Linked DNA regions of Homo sapiens. The protein of the gene in region 4 purifies or fractionates together with the protein of the main gene of each other region. This does not show direct contact. Each region holds a gene or a part of one and is shown on either strand. Other genes may lie near its edges. The genes, in order: CDC42BPA, ACAD11, PLD1 and KCTD17.

What was found.
Region 1: the proteins of KCTD17 (region 4) and CDC42BPA purify together in Homo sapiens (affinity purification with mass spectrometry; 4 studies listed by BioGRID and IntAct, with this or other methods). This does not show direct contact.
Region 2: the proteins of KCTD17 (region 4) and ACAD11 purify together in Homo sapiens (affinity purification with mass spectrometry; 4 studies listed by BioGRID and IntAct, with this or other methods). This does not show direct contact.
Region 3: the proteins of KCTD17 (region 4) and PLD1 purify together in Homo sapiens (affinity purification with mass spectrometry; 4 studies listed by BioGRID and IntAct, with this or other methods). This does not show direct contact.

The regions. Positions count from the first base shown.
Region 1 is NC_000001.11:227,315,157-227,323,591, reverse strand, and holds the start of CDC42BPA (serine/threonine-protein kinase MRCK alpha), read left to right. Parts: upstream 1-5,099; 5' UTR 5,100-6,409; coding exon 6,410-6,587; intron 6,588-8,435. UniProt on the Homo sapiens protein: Serine/threonine-protein kinase which is an important downstream effector of CDC42 and plays a role in the regulation of cytoskeleton reorganization and cell migration. Regulates actin cytoskeletal reorganization via phosphorylation of PPP1R12C and MYL9/MLC2.
Region 2 is NC_000003.12:132,635,170-132,642,983, forward strand, and holds part of ACAD11 (acyl-CoA dehydrogenase family member 11), read right to left. Parts: intron 7,634-7,814; coding exon 7,508-7,633; intron 6,965-7,507; coding exon 6,803-6,964; intron 4,488-6,802; coding exon 4,323-4,487; intron 1-4,322. UniProt on the Homo sapiens protein: Acyl-CoA dehydrogenase, that exhibits maximal activity towards saturated C22-CoA.
Region 3 is NC_000003.12:171,807,008-171,814,753, forward strand, and holds the start of PLD1 (phospholipase D1), read right to left. Parts: upstream 3,477-7,746; 5' UTR 3,392-3,476; intron 1-3,391. UniProt on the Homo sapiens protein: Function as phospholipase selective for phosphatidylcholine. Implicated as a critical step in numerous cellular pathways, including signal transduction, membrane trafficking, and the regulation of mitosis.
Region 4 is NC_000022.11:37,054,381-37,062,194, reverse strand, and holds part of KCTD17 (BTB/POZ domain-containing protein KCTD17), read right to left. Parts: intron 5,876-7,814; coding exon 5,784-5,875; intron 4,798-5,783; coding exon 4,702-4,797; intron 2,883-4,701; coding exon 2,757-2,882; intron 1,373-2,756; coding exon 1,273-1,372; intron 1,092-1,272; coding exon 1,020-1,091; coding exon of another isoform or gene 657-1,019; coding exon 566-656; coding exon of another isoform or gene 403-565; exon of another isoform or gene 1-402. UniProt on the Homo sapiens protein: Substrate-adapter for CUL3-RING ubiquitin ligase complexes which mediates the ubiquitination and subsequent proteasomal degradation of TCHP, a protein involved in ciliogenesis down-regulation.

The DNA.
Region 1 (8,435 bases), on a different chromosome or scaffold from region 4:
GAAAATCAGGAGAGTGCGGAAATTAAGTGAAGGAAAGTGTTTTAGTTAAGAGAAGTGATCAGCACTGTGAAATACTGTTAAAGCGGCAAATGAGATGCGGACTGAGGACTGCCTATTAACTTTGGTAATGTGGAAGTCACTGGCAATCTTGGCCAGAGCAATTTCCAGAGTGTGGTAACTGAATTCGTCAACTTTCACCTCCTTGGCTGCCAGCCTCTGTAGGTCCTGGGTGTGTCACCTCCACTCCCACCTCAGGACCGAAGGTTCACACTGGCTTAATTGGTTTGGTTTTGTCACCACACGTTGCAATACAGTCTTTATCAAATGTTTTCTGCTGATAGAATTTATGAAAGAATGCCACTTATCTTTGCAGTGTTCAAATTTGCTAAGTAGCTCTAATAGCCGACAATATCTGTATTATAATGTTTGATTCTAAACATATTTTGGAAAGTCCCATTTATAGTAGAGCTTTAGTGAGAGATTTTAAATGATAAATTTAAAGATAGGGCAAGATGGACAAGATCCATTGACAAGCAAGTGGAAACTATTAGTCTGTATACCTAAGTAAACCTGCCCTAATGAGGGTTGGATTGTTTTTTAACTTCTTGAGGGACAAAACAACAACAGCAACAACCAAAACAAAACAAAACAAAAAACAAATTTGAAAAGGAAAAGGTAAAAACTTCTCCTATGTTTAAATAATGCCACGTCAAAATCTACTTAATGGTTGTTCAGAGATAAAACATTTGTTTTATTGATTTTATTATAGTTTCGGTTAAACTATAACTGTGTTGATTATATGTGTGCAAATTCTGCCTGTTTGCTCTTGCATTCATTTCTTACCCATTGCCTGCTCTACTCTGTCTTTGGGGACCAGTCATGCAGCCTCCCTTTCAGAGGCTCCGTGTTAGCTTCAAATGACAGGAGATTTGTGGTAAGAGGATTCTCCTCCCCTCTCTCTGACTATGGCAGCCTCCCCTGTAGCATTTGCATCTCTTCTGTGGCTCCATCTCCCACCAGCCCTGGTTTTAGCTTCCACCAGCCTAGGGGTGGGAATAGCTTCCTGCTGCTGCCAAACTGGGTTACCTGACTTGCCCTGCATTTCCTCAGCTCTTCCACCATCCATGGAACCATGTGTCAGAATTAAGGTTTCTCTGGTTTTGGTCGGGCACAGTGGCTCACGCCTGTAATCCCAGCATTTGAGGCGGGAGGATCATTTGAGGTCAGGAGTTCAAGACCAGCCTGGCCAACATAGCCCTGTCACTACTAAAAATACAAGAAAATTAGCCAGATGTGGGCCAGGCGCGGTGGCTCACACCTGTAATCCCAGCACTTTGGGAGGCTGAGGCGGGCAGATCACAAGGTCAGGAGATCGAGACCATCCTGGCTAACACAGTGAAACCGCGTCTCTACTAAAAATACAAAAACTTAGCCAGGTGTGGTAGGGGGTGCCTGCAGTCCCAGCTACTTGGGAGGCTGCAGCAGGAGAATGGTGTGAACCCGGGAAGCAGAGCTTGCAGTGAGCTGAGATTGTGCCACTGCATTCCAGCCTGGGCAACAGAGCAAGACTTGTCTCAAAAAAAAAAAAAAAAAGAAAAGAAAATTAGCTGGATGTGATGGCATGTGCCTGTAGTCCCAGCTATTTGGGAGGCTGAGGCAGGAGAATCGCTTGAATCAGGGAGATGGAGGTTACAGTGAGCATGTGATCACGCCACTGCACTCCAGCCTGGGAGACAGAGTGAGACTTTGTCTCAAAAAAAAAGCTTTCTCTGGTTTAAATAAATAGGTGATTTCTGCTTTTTTGGTTGAACTCTGATATAATCATGTGCGTAGTTCTTTCTTTTGCCCTCATATCAACTTCTAATGCCCAAATATGTGAATTAACAACACATCCCACTTCTTCCTTGTTACAATAGGAAGGAAAAGTTGAGTTTATAGAACCTGCAGATTTTTTAGACCTCACTTGCTTTGTGATTAAAGCCATGGGCACTGGCATGAGACAGGCCTGGTGTTGACTTGTAGCTCCTGTGTCAATTACTAGTTGTGTGATCTTTCACAAGTTAAGATCTCTAAGCCTCAGCTTCTTCCATCGTCTGTGATATAGAGGTAATTTCCCTACTTCATATGGTTATGATGATTGAATAAAACATGAGCTCAAACTACCCAGGACAGTGTTTACAGGTTGTTAAGTGTTCTGTAAAGGAAGCAATTATTAATCAGAAAGTTTCTTTTTTATATACAAGCCCTTGCAGTTGATCTCACTCATGTCAGGAGCCTGACATGAAGACAGGACAGGCATTTGCTGGCATTTTATCCTGGGAGGGTACTAAGCCAAGTCATTCATTTGCAGGGTCAGGATGTGGCTAGGCTAAAAGGAGATGTGGTAAAACATCCTCAGTGTTGCTATACATTAAGCCCTACTGTGGCACGCACCTTGTTTTTGGCTCCGTTCTCCAGCAATGACCCTATAGTTATTCTGAAGTTAGATATACCAAGGTGAGAGTGAGGCTGACTGTTATAAATATTAATTGGTGGATTAATTCTCCTGCTTTTAGCCCTGAATTGGAGGATTAGTTGAAGAGAGCTTGTATTGGGGACTAGGCTTAATGATTTCTGTCCTGCCTTCTTCTTTCCACCTTCCTACCTTCTTGTCTTCTCCTGTCCTCTTTCTTTTCTGAATGGTCAGATTAATTCCCAGCATCTTCATAAAACATTCTCTGATTATTTCAAACAAATTGGGTGTTTGCAGTGGTATACATCTAATCTCCAGGCCCCCAAGCAGAATTTCACAAAGAAGACCTCCTCCAGACTATTTTTCCCCAAAGAATACCCTGCGAGGCAGCCTGTGGCACTCTTGTTTTGCAGGAACACTTCAAGCACTGTACAGCTGCTGGGCTGTGCCTTTCTTTGGCTTAAGACCGGTTTCATTAACAAGCATGTTCACACTTCAACCGGAACATTTAAAATAACACCCGCACAATGTGTTTAGTGTCTAGTTAATTATTAAGTCTCTGAGCTTGAATTATTCAAGCAAAATTGATTGGGTTCAAGCTCCTTCCTTCTCTTTGTGTGTGTGTTTTTTAAAATAAAAATAAATTCTGCTCTCTACTTTCTAAATAATGTGGAAAGGGTTATTTAGCAACCATCAATACCCTGGACTGTGGGTGGTACCCAAGCGCTAATAGAATAGGTAAAGAACTGACAGCTTGACTCTTTTGTTAAAAAAAAAAAAAGTATCTACATCTCATATACTTCCATTGTCAATTAGCATTTAGTGAGACCTAACATGTTTTAGGTTCTCCTTTAAACTTCTTTCTAGTTATTTGTAAGTTGGAAAAGCAGGTATCTTGGAGCCATTTCTTTAGTTAACCGTACTTGAAAAAGCAGAAGAAATTGCTTCCTTCTTTGCTACCGCATCTTATGGTCAAATGAAACTGTTAAAATTGGCTTCACCATTAAAATCCATGTTGTTGAAGAATGTTTGTTGAACTGAAAAAATGTCCATAATATATTGCTAATTGCAAGCAAGAGGCTATAAAACTCTTTTATTATGTATCATTTTTGTTAAAGTGCATAGGAAAAAGACTTGAATAATAAACACCAAAATATTGCTTATTATCTGTGTTAGGATTAAACTTTTCTACTACTTTTAGAATTAGACAACACACACCCATATAAAGATGTCATGGCTGGAAATGACTGACCTTTTGTTTGAATCTAAGTATCATTCATGTCAAGACCGCATTGAAAATAATGCTGTTCTTAAGCCAGGCAAGTGTAGACGTTGTAGATTTCATAAAAGATTCACACTATTTCATGAATCACAACTTGAATCGACTTCTGTTAGCCTTCATTTTACGTCTAGGCCCTCATTTCTAATTCTTCCTCAGCTTCCATATTATCAAGATGTAAGATGCAATTGTGGACATGAACATAGAAACACAACCGCCTCACAGGTGTGGGGAAGGAATATAAAATAATTGTATTTTAGAGAACGACCATAAAGGAGATGGCAATTTTGAGAGAAAGTAACAGAACTGCAATGACCTAGTTTTGTGGTGTTAATTTAAATGTGGCATCTTCCATGAGAATTTTATAAAGGGAGCTCTCCTAAAACCGAGATTCACAAAAACCTGGAAGGGCCCTACAGGGATCAGGTGCCCTAGCTATTCAGCGATTTGCCTTTGCTTCCCTAATTCCTGCATTGTGCCACTGGGTTACAAGTGTGTGTGCGCATGCACACAGGGGTGTAGGTTTGATGACAGTGGTGAACTGCCTTGACTGCCTTCACAGGCTGAATCCCCCGCAGGCAGTAACCATGGCTAGGGAAAAACAGGCAGCCGCGAGGACAGTTCCGGAGGAGACAACACCAGGCTCCCGTAGGGAAACTTTTGGGAATGGAGATGGGGGATTCCATCCTTTGCGTGCAGACCCAAGACTTCGATGGTAGCTCGGACAAGTCTGTCATTGTTTTTGTCCTGGGAAATGACACACGAAGTGCTGTAATTAGACACCTAAGAAACGATTACTCTGGAGTGTGCGCGAACCGAATCTGGGGGGCCGGTGGGGAGCAGGTAAGGGGCTGAAAGGCACCGTCTCCTCCAGCTCTGTCGGAAGCCTAAAGCCCTCTGCTTCTGGGCGCCCTTAACAAACGCGCCAGACAGGTGATGTCTCCGAGGACGAGCAGGAGCCCCCCTTCGCGATCTGCACCAGAAGCCTCGGGGAGCCGGGGCCACGGCGCGGCGGTGGCGCAGTTCCCAGCCTGCGCCCAGTCCCGCCGCAGCTCCCGGCGCGGCCCGGTCATCCCGCCTCCATATGCTCCGCCACCGCCGCCCGGGCCTCCCTCAGCCCTCCCGCAGCTCCGCATTCCACGCTGCGGCAGCCGCAGCCTCGCCGCCTAGGCAGTCCACACCCCTCCCCTCGGGCTGGCGCAGCCACTCGGGCCCCGAGCCCGCGCCCCCTTGGGGGCCTCCGCTGGGCGCGCCGGCCGGACCCCGCCCGGCTTGGCCGCCGGCTGGGGCTGAGGCTCGGGCAGGGCGGGGGCGGGGAGTGGAGGGCGTGTGCGCGCGCGTGTGCCGGGGCCGGGGGGCCAGGCCGCCATATTGGATCCAGACTCGTCCGCAAGCCTCCGCCTCTGTGCGGCGGGACTGGAGGAGCCTCGCTGAGCCCAGGGCGCGAGCGCGAGAGGAGAGGGAAGGCGGGGGAGGGCTGGAAGGGAGAGGAAGGGAGTGGTTGGGAGCCGGGCTGCCGCAGCCTCTAGTCTCCTCAGCCGCGGAAGCGACCCCTCCTCCTGCGCCGGGCCGCCTCCCTCCTCGCTGTGGAAAGATGCCCTTAGCCCAGGGGTGTGAAGAAGGGGGAGAAGTAGCTGCCAGAGCCGCCCGCGCCGCCGCCGCAGCTGCTGCTGCTTGTGTCCTTTGAATTCAGAGAAGCACCCCCCCGCCTGGGGCGTCGGGAGCCTCCGGCGCGGCGGCCCGGTGCGGGTGTCGGGGAGACCGGGCTCTCTGCCCGGCGCGGCGCGGCGCGGCTCGGCCCACGAGCGACCACCGACATGGAGTGGGCTCGGGCGGCCAAGTAGCCGCTTCTCCGGAGCCCGGTGCCAGTGCCGCCCGCAGCCCGCCTTCCACCCCCGGCCGCGCCGCCGGTCAGGCCCTAGGGTGAAGCCGGGAGGAAAATGAAGAGTTTTCACCGGAATCCGTTGAAAATAGGACTGACTGCAAAGCCTTAAAGAAAGAAGGACCTCGGGAGGAGAAACGAAAAGCCGCCTCCGGGCAAGACTTGGCGTGCTCCGAGCCGAGGGGCTGCTTCAGGGACCTCGCCCCCTCCCTTTCCCGCTGGAGAAATTGCCGCTGATGCATTATCCAAGTGGTGGTTGGGAGGATTTGCAGCAACATTTTTGGTTTTCCCTCCCCCTTCTATGCATTCTGTTTTTTTCCTCCCTTTTCTGTTTTTCTTCTTCCCGGGAAGTGAATTGCTGATGCAAATCGGACTTTATTCATTAATGATGCAACCGGATTCGTTTCAGGATTACGTTGCACGAGTTGAATTTTGAATGAAGGAGAAGAGTTTTTTTTTTTTTTTTTAAAGAAGTGTTGACTCTCTAGTTCGTTGTACTTTTAATTATTATTTTATTTAAATATACGACTTAATTGTATTCTTTTAAAAATGCATTAAGTATATATTTTATGGTAATTTACCCTCAAAATATATGTATATGGGTGAAATTGAAGACGCTTCAGTTAAGTGAGGTTACTGGTGTGTTGGATGTTTAATTCAGCACCAGCATTGCATGACAGTTGTTTGAATAACAAGTGGTTTATTTTTAAAACCATACCTTTTAAAATTTAGGTTCAGATAATAGTAAAAGTCATCATAATAATTTAAAGGAAAACCAGCAGAAATCGAAGCAAACATGTCTGGAGAAGTGCGTTTGAGGCAGTTGGAGCAGTTTATTTTGGACGGGCCCGCTCAGACCAATGGGCAGTGCTTCAGTGTGGAGACATTACTGGATATACTCATCTGCCTTTATGATGAATGCAATAATTCTCCATTGAGAAGAGAGAAGAACATTCTCGAATACCTAGAATGGGGTAAGTTTGTAATTTTTAAAGAAACTGTTAATCTTTAGCTGGTCATTATGATTTAATTGGTATAGAGAGTTATGAGTAAACTCTACTCCGTTCAAAGAAAAAATACAATAAAAAAACAGACACTAGTTATTCAAGATTTTCCGCTAGTTTTTGGTAAATATTTTCCCAGGAGTAGAATTGTGCTGCTCAATTGTTGCCTTGATTTAAGGCCTAGCTAATGTGGAACTTGGCTATGAAGAACTTATGTTTTTAGGTCAACAGTAAGAGATTTTAAATCAATTCTGTGATGGGCAAAAGTGGATTATTGGTTACAGTTGCCTAATACATGGCACTATAATAGTCCTTCATTTGAAAGGTATTTATTGGTGGAAACATTCAGACTATGGAAATTATTCTCAAAATAGGAGGAGATATTAAAATATCTGTGTTTGCCTTAGGTCAACAGAAAGCTGAAGGTGGTGATCAGTGGGTTTTATTTCATCTCTACATAGTACAAGGAAAGGAAACTGCTAAACATGGACTTTCCAAAAATTATGTTTGTAAGATTAAATGACATAGTTTAAAAATCTTGTGATAGTAGTTAGAGAATGTTTGGGGGCAGCTTCCACTTGAGAGTTAGATTTTACTCGAAAGTTAATTTAAATCTAAACTGGTTAGGTTTTTGGCTTCATTCTTCTAAATATAGATGTGATTTAGAAGACCTACTGTAGTGGAATAGATCAATGATGTGAGCAAACGCTCCATGACCTTCAAGCTTGAAGGCTTGGCTCAAGTTCTTCAGCGTCTGCTGTTACATACAGGGCACATTCTAAGGTCCAGAAGTTCACTGTTGCAATAAGCACGCATCGTCACCCAGATCTGTCTGTAGTAGTGGTACGTTGGCTTTTGAAGGATTTTGGCCAAATATGATTTTGTACCTTTGGAATACTAATCATTTTAGTTTGTTCTTATGCTAAGTTCTTATGCTAAAATATCTGTTCCCAAGTAAAACTTTATTTTCCTGAAGTAAAAGTCAAGTGCTGATTGTGTCTTTTTTTTTTTTTTTTTTTGGATTTGAAATTTATTCAAAGTTAGTTTCTCAGGTAAACCACTGATACAAGAATGTCTACACGTAATAACTTTAATTATTCAATTTGCCAGTATAAGAAGGTTTCTAGCAATGTGATGTCATAAGGTTTAAAAAAATATGTAAATGTGAATAGAATAACTTTTCAAAACAGACTGCCAGACTCATCCTGGGAATGTAAGAAATCTAAACCATCTTTCAAGTAACTTCTCACTTAAGAGTGAGACAATTTTGGCTTTGGTACTGGTTTTGTGAGTATACGTCTTTTATTTGTTGAATAAAGTATTTTGTAAAGCATATGTAGTTTTACATCCCATGTTTCACAAATTGAGAAATTCTGTAGTGTTAATTTTTTTTTTTAAGACTTAAAGGGTTTTGGTACTTTTAGAGTTGGAACTTGAGTTCTTAAGTTATGGTTCCTTAATGACACTCTAGTCTGTGATTTTTGTCATTTAGTATTCTTTCCTATCTGCGAAGCTATGGGAGAACTCTATGTACCAGTAGTAAATATAATTTTAAATGATTTATGATAAAGAGAAAACTGTATCCTCCATTGCCTTCTGATTATTAGAGTTTAGGTAAGTAGTTTTATGTTATGAGATATTTCGCTGTATTATCAGAATAATTTATATATATTTTCCATTAAATATGTTTTCTTGGATGTTGTTTCTTATATATGTATAAGAACACCTCATTTATGTATATTTTTATATAAGCCAAATATCAAATAAGTATTTGGCTGAGTATTATTTTTATTAGTATGGAAGTCTGGATAAAGAGTA
Region 2 (7,814 bases), on a different chromosome or scaffold from region 4:
TGGTTACTTTAAGGGATTAAGGCAGGATGGATGAGGTCCAGAGAGGGGAACCTTCACTGGAGGGTTCTATATATAGGAGTGATATGACATGATCTGTATTTTAAGAGGGTCACTCTGGCTACTATGATTTCAATATACTATGGGGGGTGGGCAGTGAGGCAGCTGCAGCAATACTCTAGGCAAGTTATCCAAGCTACATAAAACTGCAGACCCCATTTGGGTAATATGAGTTACTGGGTTTCATGCCTCCATATAACTGTGTGTGCTTGCACTCCCTTGCTCCTCTGGCAAACTTACACACATTCTTGTAGCTTTGTGTGGAAATATGGGCTTTGGAATCAGACAGGCCTGTATTCAGACCCTAGCTCTACCATTTGCTGGCTGTATAACTCTGGACAAGTTAGTTAACCTCTCTAATCCTCAATTTTCTCAGCCATAATATACACCTCTTACACAGGGTTAGTTTGAAGATTAAATGGGCGGGTAGCACATATAGTTCATGTATGAGTTTCTAGCAAAGAACCTGGCACACAACAGATGGCCAATATGTATTTATTTGATGAATATGTTCAGAGCTTGGCATATATAGCAAGGCAATCAAAACTTTGCCATTGTTACTGTGGAAAAAAATTGATCACTCCTTTCTCTATGACTTTATAAGAGCTTTTATTGTGGTTATATTATACTATAAATTTATAATATTATAAGTATTATAAATTACTATACTAGCTAGATTTGTGAAACTACTGAAGAGGATGGATGCATTTTTCTCTTACATCATTCTATTTGTTATCTATGCTTTTAACATCCAAAGTAAAGATGAGGCACTTACTTATGCTATAAATGATTACTTTTCTTTTTTAATACAATTGGGAAACTTCTCTGGAGTTACTTTTCAGAATATCTGAACCATTTTTGGGGTAAAAACACAAAGCTATAAAACAACAGCCAGTGAGAAAAGCTGATGGCTCATCAAATTGCATAAATTAGTGCAAATTAATTAGCAATAGCTAATTAGAGTCCTGTTGATGCCTGTTTGTGTTGAGAGTTATTAAAAGCTCAACATAACTTTTAGTGGTTGATCTGGACATTTACTAGTTCGTCTTACTGCTGCTAGGGAACTTATTAGTAAAATTATTTTTGATAGTTTTTCTGAAACCTCAGCTCAACAGAAAGCTTTTAGTTTTTTAAATTATCTTCTTTATAAAGAGATTCATTTTATGTATACTTTTTACACCATTGAATTTTATTAATATGTATGTGTATTGGCATTCGAAACAAACAAAAAATACATACAATCCAACAGAACAAACAGTAGATGAAGAAGGCAGGGAAGAAAATAATAGAATTTGTAATGAAAAGATGAAGCTAGGAGTAAGGTTATTACACATAATTGAATGTGATAGGACATGCATAGTTGTTAGTGTGGGTAGTAAAATTTGCTTTGAATTTTATAGCGGGTAAAATAAAGTGTGAAGCATGGTCAGTCACAATCTTTATAGTGTATGCAGGTCAAAAACAAACCAGCTGCTCAAGAGGGACAAATTTTCTTGGCAATGAGGCTAAAGAAAAATATCACCCATCAATCTGCATACAGGTGATATTGTGTAGCGGACGAAAATGTCTTCAACAATATAAAGAGAACTTTGAGGGGCATGGTGTAATTCCTAGAAAGCAGGCTATGCTGGAAAATGACTGAAAGGACAAAGATGAGTTAGGTAGAAGACAAGACCACATGCTGAGAGTGGGAACCGAGATGGGACAAGAAATGTGAGAGTTTGAGAAGAAGGGAAAAGATTTAGAAAAGCCATTTTTTAAATGTCACAGGTTTTACTAAGAGATGAAGTTACAGCCTAGATAAAATCATGTGGCATAAAAATGTCCCAGATCCAATTAACCTTACTTCACGACTTTATTCTGCAGCAAAAATATGAGGATTCAAGTTTAGGGCTAGAAACTGGTTAAAGTCAAGGGGTGATGGACATCCCCTGTAGGGTTATTAGAAAAAATAAAAAGTAAAATAATAATAATAATGATGATATAAAGTCAGGGTGGGAAGATTCTAGAATAATAAGTAACCTAAGGTCAGGACACTTTATAATTCTTACATTACTTGCATACATCTATAGTCAAAAAATTATTAATGAAATTGATACTAAAGGTAGTTTTTGAGATGACTGATTATGACCATGTGGCTTATGTAGGATAAGAAGTCAAGTGAAGTCATGAAGGGCTTATGGATTCTAAATTAACAGCAATCAAATTTGCAGTGTCTCAGGGAAGATGCAGAGAAATAAAAGAACAGAAGGTAAAGAGGGTGAGGTCAAAAATAAGGGGTTTCAATTTCTAGATCACTGAAGTTGACAAGTTCCAATGGATGTTTCTAATTAAATATATTTTTCAAGTTGAAATGACAATATGCAGATTTTACATTAAACTCCAAGATCTTAAACATTTCTCTACTGGTAAAATTTATATTTGGAAAATCAACATTTTCCAGGAAAACTGGATTTCTTTTCAACATTGCAGTGAGCCTATTGTGCTACTGAAATACTTGCCCAAACATGCTTTAAATACTTTGTAAATAAGTAACAGAAAATAATTTCGTTTTGCCATATCCTGTAGTTTCCTTTACTGGCTTACTCCACACATTCCTGGAAGGTTTGTCATTTAAAATTGTTTATTCTTCTTTCTTAATTGTTGTGTTTTCTGATGACAAAAATTAAACATGCTGTTGTTTTAAAAATAAAAACCAAAAAACATCAAACCCTAAACATTACAGAAATGTACAATTATGTCTCCTATAATTCTATCCCCTACAACCACTGTTTAGGTTTTCGTACATATTATGAAGCATTTACTTATACCCTAATATTTTTCTGAAGAAGCTTGACAAGTAGTCTAAGAAAAGTCAGAGAGAAAAATGAAGGGGAAAAAATGGAAAAATGAGGGTACCTGAAATAAACTGAGCATCATTGATGTGCCAGGTACCAGCTAGTTGCTCCACATTGACTGTTTCATTTTAGCTGCCCAGCAACTCAGAATTTTTTTTTTCAATTTTAAAAGGTACACAATGTCAATTTCCTGGCTTTGATAATGTACCATAGTTGTATAATATCCATTTTGCAGAATTTGGATGATGGATACACAGGACTTCTCTGTACTATAACACTGTTACAACTTTTTTGGGGACTCTAATTATTTCAAAACAAAAAGTTAAAATAAAAATAGAGGCACAGAGAGAGATTGAATAACATGCTTTAAGTTCACACTGCTAGGGAATGAAAGTTAAGCATAAATTTATGAGATGGAAATAGTTGCTAGTGAATAATTAACTAAAATTAATCCCTTCAACATAGATTCATCAGAATCATATAAGCACCTGCAATATAAAGATGAATAAGATACAGTCATTGTTTTAAAGGAACTCCAAGTCTAGTGGGTTCTAATTTGTTATCTACTATAGAGACTCAATATTATGTAGACTCGACTAAAATATTAATTAAATGACACAGATCAAATACAGGCCAGATCCTGCTATGTTTTCAGGCATATGCTTTTATAATTATCTAGATTATAAATTAGCATATTTAATTTTTCTAATCTCAGGGTAGATAATTAACAAGGTTAGAATTCAGAATTCATCAGTGCCACTAGCTCTTCCTGCCCTAAAACATCTTAGCATTCTAAGAAACTAATGAACCCAGAAAATCCTCCTCTCAGAAGCAGGATTCATTCCTACTATACTGTAATCCTAGGCCTCATTGTAGGTGCTCAGTGGAGGATTACAGCTTTCATTTGTTTATACTCTTTATAAAGAATACAGTATGCACATTTACATTGAGCAAGGTTATATTAATCTCATGTAATTCTTTTGAAGCCTCAAGAAGCTTTTGGAATTCTCTATTCTCAGAGTTTATAATAAACAAATAATAAATTCTTCATGAGATAGGGCTAAAAACCCCAAAGAAGTATAAATGAACCAGAAAAAACAGCAAGAACATGGATAAGCTAAATATTGTAACTAGTAGATGAAAACTTATTTGAAGAAAACAGCATCATGCATGTAAAATTCCCAAATCCTTTTAAGCAGTAAACCAGATACCACTTGGGATTAGAACCAGTCTCAAAGGTAGGCAGCTAACTTATGCTGGAAAATCTGCAGGACTCCTTTCTAAAAATTTTGAGTGGTGACGACAGTCCTGAGCTGTAGGGGAACAGGGAGTGGGTTGGGCTCCCTCAGTGCTCTGGGGGGAGCATTTACTTAGTACTGTGTCACAAAACAGACCTACTCAATTAATTGTAAACATAGCTAACTGTACCTCTTTAGGGTGGAAAACTATGTTATCTAGTCTGAAATCTCCATGAATCAAATTCTCTTCATTGTCATTATCGGGCAAGTTCTTCATTAGCCACTCCGATAGCTGTTGCATGGCAGGGATGTCCTGATGAGCTGCAGCTTGATATTGCTTTGTCCAGGTTGATACCTAAAGACATATAAATAAGAAAAATGGTAAAGCTGAAACTGGAATGTAGGATCTAGCAATTCTAAAATTAAAACAAAATTCAAATGCTGTTTTACTCCTAAATACTTAAGACCCATGCTGGTGATACTCCTGTCATCCTAAAACACTCAAATCAGCCTAAACCTTAAACATTTAAGTCTCTTTTCCATATAGTTCCATTTTACTTACCTAGTTTTTTATCAAGAGAAAAATACTGGCCTAGGGATCAAGAGATATGGGTTCTAGTCTTTATTCAGCAACTACTTTGTAGAAGAAAAAAAAAGAATGCATACAAACACACACACGCACACACACACTCTCTCTCACACACACACACACACACACAAATATATAGGCATAGATAATCTCTGGAAAGGGTCACGAGAAATAAGTAACCCCTGAAAAAGGGAATATGGGGACTAGAAGAAAAAAGAAGACATTTACTTTTTTTTTTTTTGAGACAGAGTCTCGCTCTGTTGCCCAGGCTGGAGTGCTACCTCCACCTCCCAGGTTCAAGTGATTCTCCTGCCTCAGCCTCCTAAGTAGCTGGGATTACAGATGCATACCACCACACCCAGCTAATTTTTGTATTTTTAGTAGAGACGGAGTTTCACCATATTGGTCAAGCTGGTCTCGAACTCCTGACTTCGTGATCCGCCTGCCTTGGCCTTCCAAAGTCCTGGGATTACAAGCTTCAGCCACCGCGCCCAGCCTACTTTTCATTTTAATACTCTTTCTTATTACCCACAGAATTTTCTAAATATTTTACAGGTATGAATAGTGTAAAGATCTTCTATTGTTCTTAGAATTGAATGCAAACAAATCAACTTACTCGTAAAGTCCTCCAACAGGTGGGACCATATTGTTTATTTGCTTTTTTATCTCCATTTCCCGAGGTATCTTTGCTCAACTTAGTGCAATAGAGCAAAGACCTTTACTTGGTCTTATCTAGTCATATCAACCTGGGTTTAAATTATATCTAAGCCACTTACTTGTGTATTACTTGATTGATGCAAGCCTCCCTTTCTTCATCTGCAAAATGGGAGTAATAATACCTATATCTTAGAGTTGTTGTAAAGATCAAAAAAGAGAGGCCGACAACTCACTCTGCCATGTAGGACCTAGCATATAGTGAGTACACTCTAAACTTTAGTTCCCTTTTCTCTTCCTTAACCCCCACAAAATGATATGCTTACAAAGGAAAGCAGCCCCATATATATCTAGTATTGCTTTCCTTTAATTTAAAATGATCTCCATCACTCCAAATTTTATCTTTCCTTAAATACTCATTATAAGATATCTCTCCCAGGAAGCTTTCTCTATATAAGCAAGGGCATCCCAACTTCCACCCTTTGAATCATGGTGAGTATCAAACAATTTACCACTAGATTTTACACTCTTTTATACCATTTTCAGGTTTCGTGAATGACATGCATGTACAGGTCTCTCAAAAATGACCATAAGTTCCTGTGGGGAAGAACCTATTGTATATTTTTCTTGATATTTAACACAGTACTCAGCAGGTATTAAACACACAGTCAAGCTTAATAAATGTCTGCTAGTCCAATTGAGAAAGAAAAAACTGTAAGCCGGGCATGGTGGCTCACGCCTGTAATTCCAGCACTTTGGGAGGCTGAGGCGGGCGGATCACGAGGTCAGGAGATTGAGACCATCCTGGCTAACACGGTGAAACCCCATGTCTACTAAAAATACAAAAAAATTAGCAGGGCGTGATGGCGGGAGCCTGTAGTCCCAGCTGCTCGGGAGGCTGAGGTAGGAGAATGGCGTGAACCTGGGAGGTGGAGCTTGCAGTGAGCAGAGATTGCACCACTGCACTCCAGCCTGGGCAACAGAGGGAGACTCTGTCTCAAAATGATGATGATGATGAAGAAGAAGAAGAAGAAGAAGAAGAAGAAGAAGAAGAAGAAGAGGAGGAAGAAGAGGAGGAAGAAGAGGAGGAAGAAGAGGAAGAAGAGGAGGAAGAAGAGGAGGAAGAAGAGGAAGAGGAAGAGGAAGAGGAAGAGGAAGAAGAAGAAGAAGAAGAAGAAGAAGAAGAAAAAACTGTATAGTTAAAAGTATTGGAAAATTAAGAGTCTAAAACAGAAGATTTTGCTGAACAAAACCTAATATAAAAACATAAGATAATTTTATACTAAAAACTAGTCATTCTGAAGGACAATGTTAAAAGTCATGGCCAAGCTTCAGAAAACTATACAATAATAGCTTTTTTTGTTGACTAATAAGGTATATTATTTACAAGAACTTGAAAAAAATAGCTATTAATGTGGATGCATTACCTGTCTTTTGCAGTACCCAGCACCTATACCATATCCTTCCAGCTGCAGTGACTGTATATTCAAGGAATGTAACTGAGCCAATGTTTCTACCGTGGCCACATATATGGCTGAACGTTCTGCTGGGCTAAGTCCAGGAATTGTTAAATCACGGAAGATTCGACCCTATGGAAGTGATTACAACAGATTATTTAAATGTGTATAATCAATACTTTGTCGAATATACTAGAAAAACATTCATTTGTGAAACATATTTAATATTAGAGTATACATGCCAAAGGGAAAATAAAAGGATATGCCAAGATGAATATAAACATCAAAACTACTCTCAACTATTTTACAGAAAAAATTTAAAACACATTTTGAATTTATTGTTCTTAATGGCTTGACCTATGTGGAGTCTGTTTTCCCTGCTACCTTATGGACAATTTGGTTATTGCCATTACAGATAGCTCTTTACTGACACCTAGAGGAAAATTTAAGAATAAGTCAATACCCCCTAATTACTAAATTTGTTTCTTGTCTATTCCATCCCTCCCTTTGTAAGTGCTCAAATTTGAACAAAATTGTAAACCTTTGCAATGCAATCTAATTACCTAAAATGTTAAATAACAAACTATATCATTTATTAAGTATCATAATAAAACATCTTAATTAACTTCATAATTAAAAGTAAAAGCAACAAAATAAGATTAAGTGTTAATTTACCTGCACATGTTCCATTACGTAAAATTCTGTTCCAATGACAGAAGTATCACTGCAGTACAGTATAGGCTTGGGAACGGGGAATCCAATTGAAAACAAGGCTTTCTGGACTTTAAATTCTCTATCAATCTAAATAGGATGATGAATCATTAAAAATCAGAGAAACTGATTTAATTGTAATTAAATTTAATAACTACTTATGAGCTAATCTTAAGGCTAGAAAACAACTGTAAAACAGTATCAACACAAACTCCAGAGGATAATAGTAATAACTTCCCTAATAGTAATCTTGGTGTAATCACTATGATTA
Region 3 (7,746 bases), on a different chromosome or scaffold from region 4:
TTTAAAAGTGCATTTCTCAGCTGGGTATGGTAGCTCATGCCTGTAATCCAGCACTTTGGGAAGCCGAAGTAGGAGGATTGCGGGAGCCCAGCTGTTCAAGACCAGCCCTAGCAACACAGTGAGACGCCATCTTTATAAAAATACAAACAAAACTGGCCAAGGATGGTGATGCGCACCTCTAGTTCCAGCTACTCAGAAACTGAGATGGGAGTATCACTTGAGCCTAGGAGGTCAAGGCTGTTGTGCCACTACACTCCAACCTGGGCAACAGAGTGAGACCCTGTCTCAAAAAAAAAAGTTTAAAAGGTGCATTTCTCTAAAGCTACGAGAAGGAACTCAAACCTTGCTTAGTGATAAAACTAAAGCCTGCAACACAACCATTATCATTAAAATGTTATTAAAACCCTGTAAGAAAGATGAAGAGTCTTGTGGATGGATGGTGGTGACGGTAGCACAACGATGTGAATGTATTTAATGCCACTACATGTACACTTAAAAATGGCTACAATGGTAAATTTTATGTTGTACATATTTTACCACAACAAAAGTGAAATTATAAGAGAAAAAAAATTTTTTAAAAAAACATCCTGTAAGAGAACATTTATACACTGTCGGTTGGAACGTAAATTAGTTCAGTCACTGTGGAAAGCAGTTGCAGATTTCTCAAAGAACTCAAAACGGAACTACCATTCAACCCAGCAGCCCCATTACTGGGTATATATCCAAAAGAAAATAAGTTGTTCTACCAAAAACACACACAAATTCATATGTTCACCACAGCACTAGTCACAATAGCAAAGACATGGAGTCAGCCTAGATGCCCATCAACTATGGACCGGATAAGAGAAAATGTGGTCCATATGCATCATAGAATACCATGCAGCCATAAAAAGTAACACAATCGTGTCCTTTGTAGAAACATGGATGCGGATGGAGGTCATTATCCTAAGCAAATTAATGCAGGAACAGAAAATCAAACATTGCATGTTTTCACTAATAAGTGGAAGGTAAACATTGGGTACTTATGGATATAGAGACGGCAACAATAGACACTGGGAACTACTAGACGTGGGAGGGAGGAAGGAGAGCAAAAGTTAAAAAATTATCAGGTACTATGCTCACCACCTGGGTGACGGGACCAGTTGTACCCCCAACCTCAGCTGCATGCTGTATGTCCATGTAACAAACCTGCACATGTACCCCCTGTATCTAAAATAAAATTTCAAATTATTAAAAAAAAAAAATAGGGTCGGGTGCAGTGGCTCACGCCTGTAATCCCAGCACTTTGGGAGGCCGAGGCGGGCGGATCACGAGGTCAGGAAATCGAGACCATCCTGGCTAACACGGTGAAACCCCGTCTCTACTAAAAATACAAAAAATCAACCGGGCGTGGCAGCAGGCGCCTGTTTTCCCAGCTACTCAGGAGGCTGAGGCAGGAGAATGGCGTGAACCCGGGAGGTGGAGCTTGCAGTGAGCCGAGATCGCGCCACTGCACTCCAGCCTGGGCGACAGAGCGAGACTCCGTCTCAAAAAATAATAATAATAATAATAATGACAGTCCTACTTTTCCTTTGTAACAAAAATAAAAGTTACCTATAAGAGTTAAAGGTAAATAAAATTTGTAATTTTAATTAAGAAACACTAAGTAAACATACAACTTCCAAGAAGCCGGGTTCCCCACTACCTGGTTATAAGTAAGTCTACAAACCTAAATGAGCATTGTACAGCGCTTACTATAGTTCATAATTATTCTGTCATCAGGGACAAACATTGTAAAGACACTTTTTCCTCAAAGCCTTAGCATTCAATTTTTTTTTTTTTTTTTTTTTTTTTTTGAGACAGATTCTTGCCCTGTCGCCCAGGCTGGCGTGCAATGGCTCCATCTCGGCTCACTGCAACCTCCGCCTCCCGGGTTCAAGCGATTCTCCTGCCTCAGCCTCCCGAGTGGCTGGGATTACAGGCGTGTGCCACCACGCCTGGCTAATTTTTGTATTTTTAGTAGAGGCGGGGTTTCACCATGTTGGCCAGGCTGGTCTCAAACTCCTGACCTCAGGTGATCTGCCCGCCTCAGCCTCCCAAAGTGCTGGGATTACAGGCGTGAGTCACCGCGCCCAGGCAGCACTCCAACTTTTTATATGGATTGTTAACTGTACTGGTTCTTGAGAAGCCAGACTGAGCGCTTATACAATTAGTCCAAAGATCCCCAAACAACATTTAAAGGCTGTCTACAAATTCAAGCTAAAAGACTGTGTACAAATTCATTTGTGTGTCACAAAACATTTAATACTGAAAGAGATTCTTATTCAAATAGGCAGTGTGTAAATGTGGGGTCTGTTAACAGTTCAAATTGCAGATTCCTTTCCTTCTTTAAGTTTTCATTGCACCACCACGAACTAAACCATTTAACATACCTCAGAGGTCTCTGGGTACCTAGTCTCTCAGAGGCCTTTGGAGGCCCACGAAGGCTTATCTTAACTAAAATTGGCAGGGCTGGCTGATAAAGTTAACGGAACTCCCCATTTTGGAGGCAGACTTAGTAATGGTCAAACGAAGAAACTGTTGTGGTCTGTTCTTAAAAAGCTACTAGTATTTAGTGCTTCACAGAGGAAGTAAAGAAAGCAATAATCCGAGATGAGGAGGAGCAAATACAGGCGTGGCGGTAGTTCAGGACTGAGTCTACAAGGGCGGTTCTCAAGGGCGTCACAAAATCCTATGGAAGGCTTGGAGGACGGCACTCCTGGATCTGAGCCCTACGTCCCAAACACCTTCAATCGTATTGTGAGGAAGAAGACCTTTTACACACTCCCTGCTGCTGGCCCCCGGCCCCCTCGCCCCACCTCCGAGTGGTCACATCACACGGCGGGAGCCGCGGTCAGCAGCTGTGATCACACCCCCAGGACCGTGCTCTGCGGGCTGGGCTCGAAGCCTTGGGACGCGGCACTTCCTGGTTGGTACGGGATGCCGGTCCCATCGCCCCCACCAGCCCAGTCATGCCACCGCGCACCCGAACCAAGGGCGCCCGGATGACCTGGGGACACCACACACACTGCACCCGAAGCCCTGTGGCGGCGAGGCGGTGCATCCTGCAGAGGACGCCTGGGCTTCAGCCTGAGCCTGCGCGGCTCTGCGCTCCAGGCAGCCGCCCGCGCGGCAAAAGTGCGTGCCAGAGTTGTCAGCTTTCACCCTGCAGGAATTCCACCCGAAGGCGTGCGAGGGAGGCCCTTGGGGATCGCTAGGGAGTCCGCCGCCGACTCACTCGCTGAAATCCCGTCCAAGTTGGGCGGGGAGCGGCCAGCTGCCCAGGTTGGGCGGAGGAGGGACGGAGGGCGAGGGCAGTGGAAACCCGGCTCCCACGGGCGCCCGGTGATCCGGGTCTCGGCGCGGCTCCTACCTGCAGGGCGAAGGGGCCGCTAGCACCTGCGCGTTGGCGGCGGACTCTCAGGGCTCGGGTGCCTCTGGCACAGCTGGAGCTCAGCGGGAGGGAGGGAGAGAGGGCGGGCCGGAGGGGGCTCTGCGCTGCGCGGCCGGCAGGAACTCTCCGCCCGGATTCGCCCCGGATTCGCAGGGGTGGAGCGAGGCGGTGCCAGGTCCCGGGGCGTCGCGGTGCCGGCTGGAGGCCCCAGCGGGGCAGGTCTCGCGACTGGGCCTCTGATCGCCCGCGTTCCTTGTTCTCTTTTCCCAAAGTTTCATAACTCGACCGCATCACCCTAGGGAATGCTCGCTATTAGGACCATTATCAGGTCCTCTCGAGCCGCCAAGGACCAGCCACCTTTCCCGGAGCTTTGCCTATGATATCTATTCTTCGACTACTGCGGATAGTAGCCACAACTGGTCCAACTTATAAGTAAGGAATCAGCAAATCAAACGGCTAAATAACTTGCCTGAGGTGACATAATTAAGAGACTGGAGCTTTGCTGGAGTCTTTATAAGCCTTCTTGCACCTCCTTAGGGAAGTGTTATCGCCAATTTACAGGTAAGGAAATGAAGGCTCAGAACCAGCCCGAGGTCACACAGCTTAGATGGAGGGGGACGGGAATTTGTGTCCCGATGTCTCTAAAACTGGTTATAATTCAGAAATCTTAGCATAAAATAATAAATTGGGAGCAAAACAGGGAAAAGACCCATTCCACCTATGGAACCGTTCAAACACGGCAATTTTGCTGTTTTCAGTCCACTTAGAATAAAGTCTTAAGAAAAAGAGAACCAGTTGTCATGTGGCTTGAATAGCAGCCCTTTGGGAATGTAATTTTGAATATAGGCCAGTTCCAACCTCATTACACGATATTGCATCCCGCCAAAGCCAGGGGAAGCAATGGCCTCCCCATGCACCAAACTGCTAATAACGTCAGCCACTTTAAAGCATTTAGTGGATATTACACAACTGCGACTGACCAAGTTACATAATGTCTTACTGCACACATGGCATTGCATGAAATGAAAAATATAATATACCAGTCCAAATTAGGGGAGGGGGGCCAAATTATAGTCTGGAACTCAGTTTTCCTGTAACCTACAGTTGCTCAGCCCTCCTTAGACCACATTTTTGTCTCTTGAGCACATCTTTTCCTAATGATAGAAGAGTCACACAGCCCTCACTCTTTCCTTGTTGACATAAATGATTGATGTCTTTTGAATCCTATGATACTGACAGATTTTTACAATTAAACACATGACTCTCTGAGCAGAGTATTGCCTAAGAGGAGTTTAGTAAGTTTCAGACAAGCATGTTACTGGAAGGCAGAATACCCTCTCTCCTCCCCTCTTTCTCAAGCTTTATTAGTCACAGATGGTCTGATAAGTCTTGTGCACACACGTAACTGCATTCTTACAAGCTTGTCTTTAGAAATTATAATGCTTTTGGTTGAGAAGCAGCAGTCTATAAAATTGCATCCCAAATTCTTAAGTGTCACTATGAAAACATTTGGCACTTGCCTCCAACAATAGGTCTTTCTACTAAATCTAATTAGAAATAAAATTATCAAGGCCAAGCGCAGTGGCTCACACCTGTAATCCCAACACTTTGGGAGGCCGAAGCGCGTTGATTACCTGAGGTCAGGAGCTCAAGACCAGTCTGGGCCACATGGCGAAACCCCGGCTCTACTAAAAATACAAAAATTAGCCGGAGGTGGAGGCAGGTTCCTGTAATCGAAGCTATTCGGGAGGCTGAGGCAGGAGGATTATTTGAACCTGGGAGGAGGAGGTTGCTGTGAGTTGAGATTGCACCACTGCATTCCAGCCTGGTGACACAGCAAGACTCTGTCTCAAAAAAAAAAAAGAAAGAAAGAAAGAAAGAAAATTATCTAAGTGCCCTTACAATAACTGAATTTCTGCCTCCCTGGGATAGAGGAATAAAATAGGAAATGCCATATGTTGTTTAGAGATGAACTGAAGCTTATGGACTCCCAAACATGAATTTTAGAAGTAGTATGATTTTGTATGTAATTATTTTATTTTCCTGAGAGATTTTGTGATTTTTCTTTCCAACTCTTTCATATCTTCAAAGATGTCAAGAAACAGTGACTAAGTAATCATGCTATACATTCATCTCAATATGCACTTGACATTTTTGTCAAAGTGGTATTTGAAATCCTTTTAATTGTTCTATTTTCTTCTGAGAATAAAAACATATATGTTCATTTTTATAATTTTAACATCTATATTTTAGAAAAAAAATTTTACATCTATGTTTTAGAGACCACAGAAAAACATTTTTAATTAAAATCACCTATAACTCCCACACACACACTCTCTATTAGCATTTAGTATATTTCCTTATTTTTTCTATGCCCAGAGGTTTGTTATAAAATTAACACCATGCTTTACAGAGTTTAGAATCTTCCTTATCTCACTAAGTATTTATAAATTGACTATTTTTTACTGTTATTAAACTTTCTTTAAGATATCATTTCTGTGGTTGAAGAATATTACAATCATTTATCAAATGTTTTAGGATATTTTCAGACTTTATTGCAGTTTACAAATCATGCTAGAATGAACACTACGTTGCATCATCTTTGTCAAGATCTCTACATCCTTAGGATAGATTCCTAAAAGTAGAAATACTGGATCAGCATTTAGAAACATTTTTAAGGTGCTGTGTGATGCTGCAAAAATACCCTCCAGTATTAAATATTGCCTTGCTTATAACCTGAAAATGTCACGAATCAAAATCATATCTTGTTTTAATCAACTTTTTTATAATCAGTAATGCTGAACACGATTTTTTCATGTTATTATTTGTACCATTTACTGAAAATGATCTATTCATGTCCATTACCTGTTCTTTTTCTATGGTAAATTAGTTTCTTGTTAATTTGCAATAATGCTTTCAACAGAAACAGAACTATTTTATCAAAGTGACATACAAATGGTGCTCCCCCAGATTTTCCCTTGTGGTACATTTGATACAAGCACTGCCATCCAGATCATCTAGTCATTTTGGGATACCAACATCTATCATCTTTTCTGACAGTTCCATTTTCTTATAGAAAATTACCTCTCCCCAAATAGGCATAGGCCTGGCAAGACAGCAATTTCAAGCAGTAACCTCAAAAGTGAAGGTCAGATCCTTCTTCCATATTCCCACCACCATTCCATTTACCCTATAGGCCAGGTGGACTGAATCTCAGGGGATGAGGGAGCCGGTGATCTTTGAGGTTGAGCTTATTGAACAGAGACAGAAGCGGCCCATCAGCAGCTTTACCCTGACCAGTAAAACCTAGGAAACTTTTACTTCCTAGGTTTTGTGGGTCTTTTTTTTAAATCTTTTTGTTGCTTCCTTAGTTCCTGCTGTTCTTCCACTTTGTCTTGATTCTGTGAGGCCCCGGTGCCCTTTTCCTTCAGAGAGCAAGTCTGCATTCATTATTTGTCCCCAATAATCCTCACTGACATAATCTGTATGACTTCTGTGCCCTTCAGTCCACCTGACAGTCTGTGGATTAGCAACTACTCATTTCATTCATTCATTCGCAAACATCTAATTGCTAATGTTAATTAACCAATGCACATGTTTCTCTAGAGACATGGAGTATAGAGCAAGATGTTGTATCCCCAGTTACCTGATGACATAAATCACTTCAACCACCATAACAGTGACTCACTGAAAGATCAGAACAGTGTCATTAGTGAGGCTCAAATTTTTTGTAAAAAAATGACAGTGGTTAACACCAAAAATCTCAAGAGAGAATGAGGAACACAGCAACACAGCAGATATTGCCAAGATGTGCAGAGCATTGTGTTTCTGTATCCTCATTTCAGCTTCCTGTGGCCCATTTGTATGTTTCATCATTTTTTCCAGCAACGGTCGACTTGTGAGCTGCCTAGCATGTGACTATAAAGGTCCCACACTGACGCCTACAGCTCCCCCTGCAATACCAAAGATAAGTCTTCTCAGTCACCCATAGCCAGTCCCTGTGAAGCTTTTTCATGTCCAACAAGCCCAAATGGATCCCACTCCCCCTATCTAATGACTTTTTTGAAATATTTCTGTATTTTCAATGTTTACATAACCTTTTTTTTTATACTTTAAGTTCTAGGGTACATGTGCACAACATGCAGTTTTGTTACATATGCATACATGTGCCGTGTTGGTGTGCTGCACCCATTAACTCATCATTTACATAAGGTATTTCTCCTAATGCTATCCCTCCCCCAGCCCCCCACCCCACGACAAGCTTCGGTGTGTGATATTCCCTGCCCTGGGTCCAAGTGTTCTCATTGTTCAGTTCCCACCTATGAGTGAGAACA
Region 4 (7,814 bases):
TCAGGGCTGGGAGAGGCACTGATGCCCCAGGCGAAAGAAGCCACAGGGAGCAGCTGTCTGTCCCAATTTTAGAGGCAATTGTGGCCCAGAGAGGGACAGTGACTTGCCCAAGGTCACAGAGCAGGCAGAAAAGAGTGGGATAGGGGGCTTGTGGGCACATGGCCAGGGCTTTTTCTGCCACTCTGCAATCCTTAAGCCACTCTGGCTGACACTTCATGGGCCAAGGGTATCCAAAAGTGGCCTGTCCTCCCCATCCCCACAGAAATAGGGGATGCCACAAGGCAGTGACACAGGAGCTCCTGGATGTGCAGGGACTTGGCCAGGGCCTCTGGCTTCAGCGGTCCCTCCCTCCCCACCAGCCTGGCTCTGGTGCTGATGGGCTGGTAGGAAAGTTCCCACTCCCTAACTTTCTTCTCCTCTCAGAGCCTCACCCCCAAGGCCAAGGTCGGATGAGAAACTTTGGTGGGTGGAGATAATCAGCCGAAAGCTCGGCTCAAGTCCAAGGATCAAGAGATGAGCACCCTCCTCGCTCCACCCCTCCCTCCAGCACCGCCAAGCTACAAACCAGGGATGGCAGCTCTGGGGGCGGGCGAGGGGCCGAGGAGAAGCCCTCACTGCAAGCTCAGCCTCAGGTCTGAGAGGGTGCGGACGGGAACCTGCAAGGAGGAAACGTGAGGAGGAGGCCGGGAGGAGAGGAGGGGGGGCAGGGCCTGCAGCCAGGGCCCAGTCTCAGAGGTGCCCGGCAGGGTTAGTGGGCACAGAGGAGGTGCAGCTGCGCCCCTCCTCCCCAGGCTGGGAGGCAGGAGGTACCAGAAGGGGCGCAGGAGGCGGCAGGCAGGACGCTCTGGGATGCAGGGCCAGGGGGCCTGGGTGGAGGGCACGGGAGGCTGGGACCAGGGCAGACCCGGGATGGAGGCGTGAGCAGGCAGAGAGAAAACCCGGACAGGGGCAGAGAGGGAAGAGGCAGGGTGCAGATGAGATCCAGGAGGAAGAAGAGGTGGATGAAGATGAGGCAGGACCTCCAGCGGGAAGCGGAGGAGGAGGCAGTGGTGGGAGGGAGAAAAGGTTAGCGGGATCCTGAGATGACTGGGCTGCAAAGAGAAAGTGAGAGAAGGGATGGTTATGCGGGTGAGGCGCCAGGCAAGTGGCTGAGCTAACCCTGGTGCCCCCCCAGCAGCCCCGGGGCCCCCGGTTCTGCAGCTGGCTCCAGCAAGGAGTGGGCGGGAGGCTCCGGCTTTGCTTAGCAATCATCCTCCTGGGGGTTGGCTGCACCTTTCTCCTGTGCATCTGCCTCCACCTGCACCTGTTCCACCTCCACCTCCTCCACCTCCTCCTCCTGCTGCTGCTGCTCCTCCAGCTGCTCCTCCGTGCTCTGTGAACCAGCCGGCGGACCCAGGGAAGAAAGAGTGGAGACACTAACAGAGGGGCCAGGGCCTGCTGGCTATCCCCAAAGACCCGGTCTCAGGCAAGGTGAAAGGGACCTCAGGAGAGGGGAGGGCTCCAGCCACAGAAGCTGGGGGCATCTTCTCCGGTCCCCTGGGCAGCTTGGGGAGGGCCTGGGGAAAGCAGCTGAGGATGGGATGCTGTGGGCATGCTCCGGGGTCAGCCTGGCTGCTGTTACATAGAGCGAGGCTGGAGGGAGGGGATGAAGCAGAACAGGGAGGGTGTGGGACTGGGGTATCCCTGAGGGGTGCCTGGGAAGGCCTTGTTTGGAAAGACTGCTCCTCAGTAGAAATGTGGCCAAGGAAGCCCCAGGGCAGACACCACCCAGATCTGGGATGCCAGCCAGTCTCTGACACCCCAGGTCCAGGGGCTTTGGCCCAAAGAGGCAGAAGGAGCAGTCTCGCTCTGCACCCTTGCAGGGCAGCGTCAGCCCTGGCAGTGGTGGGGGTGGGTGGGCAGGCAGGGTGCGTCACAGCAGGACAGGGAGGCAGACAGATAGACAGGAAGCCAGAGGTAAGCCTCCACTGTGTGGGGTTGGGCCCCAGGAGGAGCAGCCTGCCTTCTTCCCAGCCTGGTTCACGCCTGCTCTGTGGCTCTGCGAAGGCCCTTGGGACTTCCCACAGCACTGGGTCCAGGATGGCAGGACCCCCGCTCAGCCCTCTCCCCACAGTGGTACAGTGGATGCTGCCAGGGTGCTCTCAGGAGGCTGCCTCAACAGGCCAGGCGGACACACAGGACTGGCAGCCACCAGGCTGCCCCTATCCTGCAGAGCAGCCAAGGAGGGGGCCTGGGAAAGGGGCAGGATTTACAGCGGTGGCTTCCTCATCCTGGCTCAGGCCAGCTGGGGACATGCACCTGTCCCTGGGGAATAAACGGCCATTTGGGATCCCAGAAGTTCCAGGCTCCAAGGCACTACAAAGAGTATGTGATCCTCCCCTCTCACTTCAGAGAGTGCAGCAAAGGTGCTGGGAGAGGACAAGCCCTGTCCTAAGTCACACAGAGAGTGCCACACTGTGCCCTGACCCCTAGTCCATGCCACAGTGCCCAGTGGCCACTAAGCGGCCCCCTTCATGTAGCCTCTGAGTCCACGCCGGCTGCACCCTGGGGATGCTCTCATTTCACTGCTCCCAGCCTGGGCCTGGGTAACGGCAGGTGGCATGGGATGGATGGCGGTGGCTGTGAGCATGGGGTTGTGCATGGGCGGTGGCGGGAGAGAGGTGGAGGGATGGTGCAGGCGCAGGGGCGGGACAGGCGGGGAGGGTGGAGGGAGACAGGAGACTTCTCCGGACACAGGCTGAGGCGGGTGGGCTCACCTTGGTTTTGCGGCTGGACTCTGAGCTCAGCCCGTTTGGGGTGCTGTGGAGCTCCTTGGACACCACACACAGGAACTCTGCCTGGTCCTCGCTGCCGTAGTTGTAGGAGGAGCCGATGTTCACCAGCTAGAGGGGCGGAGCATGGGGAGAAAAATGCAGGTTGGTGTTGGGGGCCGTGGGGCAGGATACGACAGACCTCGGCACTCAAATCAAGATACCAGCTCAGGTCCTAATCTTGCGGCTTGTCGGGCCCACTCCTGGGTTTGTAGAGGGCACCTCTGGGCAGGAAGGTGGAGTCTTCCCCCTTGCAACCTGTGCCTGTGGTCTGTGCCCCAGGACCAGCCCCTCCGCCTGGCTTGGCTGGCCCGATCCCTGGTGGAGGGTGGCAGCATTACCGCTGTCCCCACCACCACCTCCAGCCTAGCCCCAGAGCCAGGGGGCCCTTTTCTAAATGCAGGCGGAGGCCTCTAAAGGGCGGCTGTCCCCCATTCCAGATGTGGCTGACACAGCCCCAGGACAAGGTTGCAGGGTGGCATTGGCAAGGTGGAGCCCCACAGAATATTCCCTTCACTCCTGGAAGCAGAGGTGGGACGACAGGTGGTCCACTCCTGAGACCAAAGGGCAAATGACCAATGGTCCCTGGCCTGCTTGCTCAGCCTCTGAGAGCCTGTGCAATTGCCAAAGACACCCAGAGGCTCTCAGAGTGGCCCTGCCCTTGTTCCAGGGTCCCTAGAATAACCACGCCCACAGAGCCCTTCTGGCTAAGAAATAAGAAAGTTCTTCCAGGTGATGAGTCTCATTCAGCTCTCAGGGACCCTGAAGAGAATCTCAGGCCTGCTGAAGGCCTCACAGCTAGGAAGGGGTGGAGCAGGGAATGGCATCGGGGATCCCAAGTCCTCTCTGAGTGTTGCAGACTTCAATATGGATTTCTAATGATTTGCATGACACTAATGCCAACATAGGGAGTCCTACGGAGGGCTGTAAGCTTTACTGATGGCCCTTCTAATCTCACAAGAGTCCTACAGAGGAGGTACTGTTAGCCCACTTCACCGATGAGGGAACTGGGTCCCGCACAGGAGATGTAACTTGCCCAAGGTGGCAGGCATGTCTGTGGCAAGGCCTAGAGGTGAAGCCAGGCCTCTGGCTCTGCACTAGGCCCATTCTTCCATCCCTCCAGGCCATCCTGGGGGCTCCGACCTTCTGCCTTGCAGTCTCCATGTGCCAGGGAACGTGTGGGTGGGCGTGGAGAAAGGCTAGCCAACCCCCTCTCCTTCTCTAAAGGCACTTTTGACCCTGGGCTCACTTTCTGGCTCTGCTCCTCTGGAAACCTGAAAGGTGGGAGGTCAGCTGCATGACTAGGGATAAAGTCCCTCGGGATAAGGATCTCCCGATGGGTAAACTGCATCTGGACTGGGAGGAACCACCGTTCACCATAAAGACCTCATGGGAAGGCACTGCTTTGGGCTCCCCTGCATGTTGCAATGCTGGCCACTGGGCATGTCCCCTGCGGAGACCCTGAAAACTGTGTCAGGAACTGCTATGATCGCATGATGCTGACTCTGAGTTCTAAGAGGTACTGACTCAATGTGGACTCCACTCACCTATGTGGATCTGGTCTCCTTGCACCTGAGCTGTCCTTCGGGGGCCACAGACTCACTCATGCCACCAGATAGATCACCACCCAGTTGCTGTGAGGACTCCCACCAACAAGGACACCCCGTGCTGTCCTATGGCCACTGGGGCTCCTATCCTCTCTCTCGGTCAACCTGCCACCAAGTGTGGTCTCTCCTAACCTTGTTTAATTTGATTTCAGAAGAACCCTGGGGTTGGGGGAGACTGTGGTGGGGAACCCAAGGCTGGGGCTGCAGGAAGGGAGGGGCCTGCTTGGTCAGAGGCTAGGAGGTCCCAGGGTTGTCCTGGTGGCACGCCCCTGTCCCCAGCGCACCTGCTCGAAGCGCCAGCCATCAGACATGGTGGAGACCATTTGCGTGAGCTCCTCCTCCTGGCACTGCAGCACGCGGTACACGTGCTTGGGTGGGACCTGTGGGCAGAAGGGTCACATAGAGGGCACCTGTGGGAGCACCAGGCACCCCAGGAGGGGCATGAGCACCTGCTGCCACCACCCCCGCAACATACCCAAAGAAGAAGAGAGGGAGAGAAAGAAGAGGTGGTTGGGGGGAGGCAGCCATGCTCTGAGCACCTGCTCCTCACCAGGCATTTACCAGGCACCATCTCACTTAATCCTTCCAAGAATCCTAGGCATTACGGGACTTTCCATTGAGGCTCAGAGAGGTCCAGTTACTTGCCCAAGGTCACCCAGCTCAAGGGTGAAGGAGACAGAACCGGAACACGGGTAATTCAAGAAAGAACATGGGTGGGGCTTAGGGAACATTCTGGGTCACCCTCAAGGAGTCAGGCCCTCAAGGAGACACGGAGCCTCCCCTCTTTAATCCCCTGGGCCTGAGAAATGGTTCCTCACTACCTGTCCCCCAACCCTCACACATCCCCCAGAGTAGGCGGAAAATCTCTTTCCCTCCTCCTGCAGACTGGCCAGGGAGGCCCAGGCTCCAAGGTCACAAACGCCAGCCCCAACAGCCTGTGCCGAGCCCACCAGGCGACCATCTGATGCCACAAAAGGCACAATTTGCTAATCCTGCATTTTCCTCTGCAGGGCACCCTGTACCTCCACACTGACCCCCTTCTGCCTATGAGGAAGGGATGGGTGTGCCATTCCCACCCCTCTCTATCCCATAAGAGAAAATCAAGGTCCGGAGAGGGCGAGCCTGGCCCAACACACAGCAAATGGGGCTGAGACAGGGACTGAACCCCAGTGTCCGTCTCCGAGTCTGGGGCTGTGCTGGGCAGCCTGTCAGCCCAACCATGCCTCTCCTTACAGGCCAGCTCGGCCTCCCCATGACAAACACTGGTCCTGTCTCTCCCAACCTCCTCTGCTTCCCGCCCCGTCTCTCAGCCTCTCTCTCCCCACTGGCCCCTGCCCTGGCCGTGTGTGCTGCCCCTGCTCCCGACCTGGGTGACCGTGTAGTCCTTCTCTTCCATCCGGTCTTTGATGATGCGGATCAGCGGGCCGATGTTGTAGAACTCGGCTTCCTCCAGGACCCCTGGCACAGACAGAACAGATCCCAGGTCACTCCTTCTGCCTCCATGCCCCATTCTCCTCTTGTTCCCTCCACCCCGAAACCCACCTCTCGCTCTGATCACCCGCCCTGAGGGTGAGCTGAGTGTCTGTGAGTTCAGGGGTCAAGTAAGAGGGAGCATTTCTTTCCTTGGATCCCACACTTCCTGTGGAAGGGGCTGAGGGGCTGCCACACAGCTCTGCTGTGCTGAGTGCGGTGACCCAGGGGTACCTGCCAGGCCACCGTCTGGGGCAGCTTTAGGGCTATCAAGAGACAGCAGGGTCATTGGGACTGATCCCCAGAATGTCACCATGAGCAGGGCCTTGCCTGACCCCTGATTATGTGCTCCTATTTATTAAGCACATTCTAAGTGCCAGGTGCATTACATTTTTGAATTCTCAGAACTAGAAGGAGGTACTTTCATCATCTGCATTGAACAACTGGGAAAACTGAGGCTCCCAAAGAGAAGCAGCTTGTCCAAGGTCACACAGCTGGTAAGTGCCAGAGGGAACTCAAGCGCTGCAGACTCCAGAGCCCATGTCTCCCCACTGTAAGCACATACCCTTGTGTCCATGCATTCCCCCAACTGCCTCACCTTACAGTTTGCAACACCCTGCACGAGCTCATCACAAGTCCAGGGATATGAGGAGAGCAGGCATTACTGTCCCCATCTTACAGTTAAGTTAATCTGGGAGATGAAGAAGTCAGCCCACCAGTGAAGCGATGAGCTTGCAGCTGTTTCGACTCCCCTAGGCTCCCAGAAGGCAGGGGACCTTTGGGCCCTTTCCTTGACTGGCCTCTGGGCTCCCTGGGGACAGAGCTCATTATGAGCAGAATGTGTGTGTTCCCCAAAAATCCACCTGCTGAAAACTGTGATGGGATTAGGAGGGGAGGTAATGAGATCATGGGGGTAGAGTCCCCAGGGTAGGATCAGTCTTCTTATAAGAAAGGCTAATTGGATGTGAGGGCGATCTGGCGGGGACATCTGTCACTCCACTGATCACCAGGGTTGATTTAGCTGATCTGGCTGGCTAGATGTGTGTCCCCTTCCTCCCTCACTGCTCCAGGTGTGTCCCTCCCGAAGCTGTGAGCTCCATCGAAGGGGGCGACCACCCCCGATAGAGGAGGACCGGACTTTGGTCAAGGGTATGTGAGTAGCTGCGCTCCCCTGCTAGAACCTCCAAACAAGCTCTCGAGAAGGGGCGGGCGAGGGCTAGCTCCCTCTCTTTCTGCCATGTGAGGACACAACGAGAAGTCAGCAGTCTGCAATCCGGAAGAAAGTCCTCACCAGAACCTGCCACAGTGCCCCGATCTCGGGTTTCTAGCCTCTAGGACCAAGAGAAATAAATTTCTGATTTTCATAAGCCACCCAATCTATGTTACTTCATGATTGCAGCCTGAAATGGCTAAGATGGGGCTCACATTTCTGATCTGCCCTCTGTCCCCGGTGCCCACACAGGACCAAACACAGAGCAGGAGGTCAGGGAGTGCAGCTGCCTGATTACGAGAATTATCCCCAGTGCCCTGGGCGGAGCCCTGCAGGTGACAGACAGCTAGCACTGCATCCCACATCCTCCGGCCAGGAACTGAGCTCCATGCTGCACTATTAACTCCTTTTATCCTCATGACAGCTCGGTGAGGTGGGTGCTATGGTCCCCCATTTCACAGATGGGGGCATGCAGACACAGAGGGGTTAGGTCACTTTCTCAGTGTCACACAGCTAGTAAGTCTCCTCTCAGATCCCCTATCCCCTGGATGAGCCCTAGCCCTGTGTATCCCCTAGCCCCCGGATAGCCCTGCGTGATCCCCTAGCCCCCGGATAGCCCTGTGTGATCCCCTAGCCTCCGGATAGCCCTGTGTGATCTCCTAGCCCCCAGATAGCCCTGTGTGATCCCCTAGCCCCCAGATAACCCTGTCTGATCCT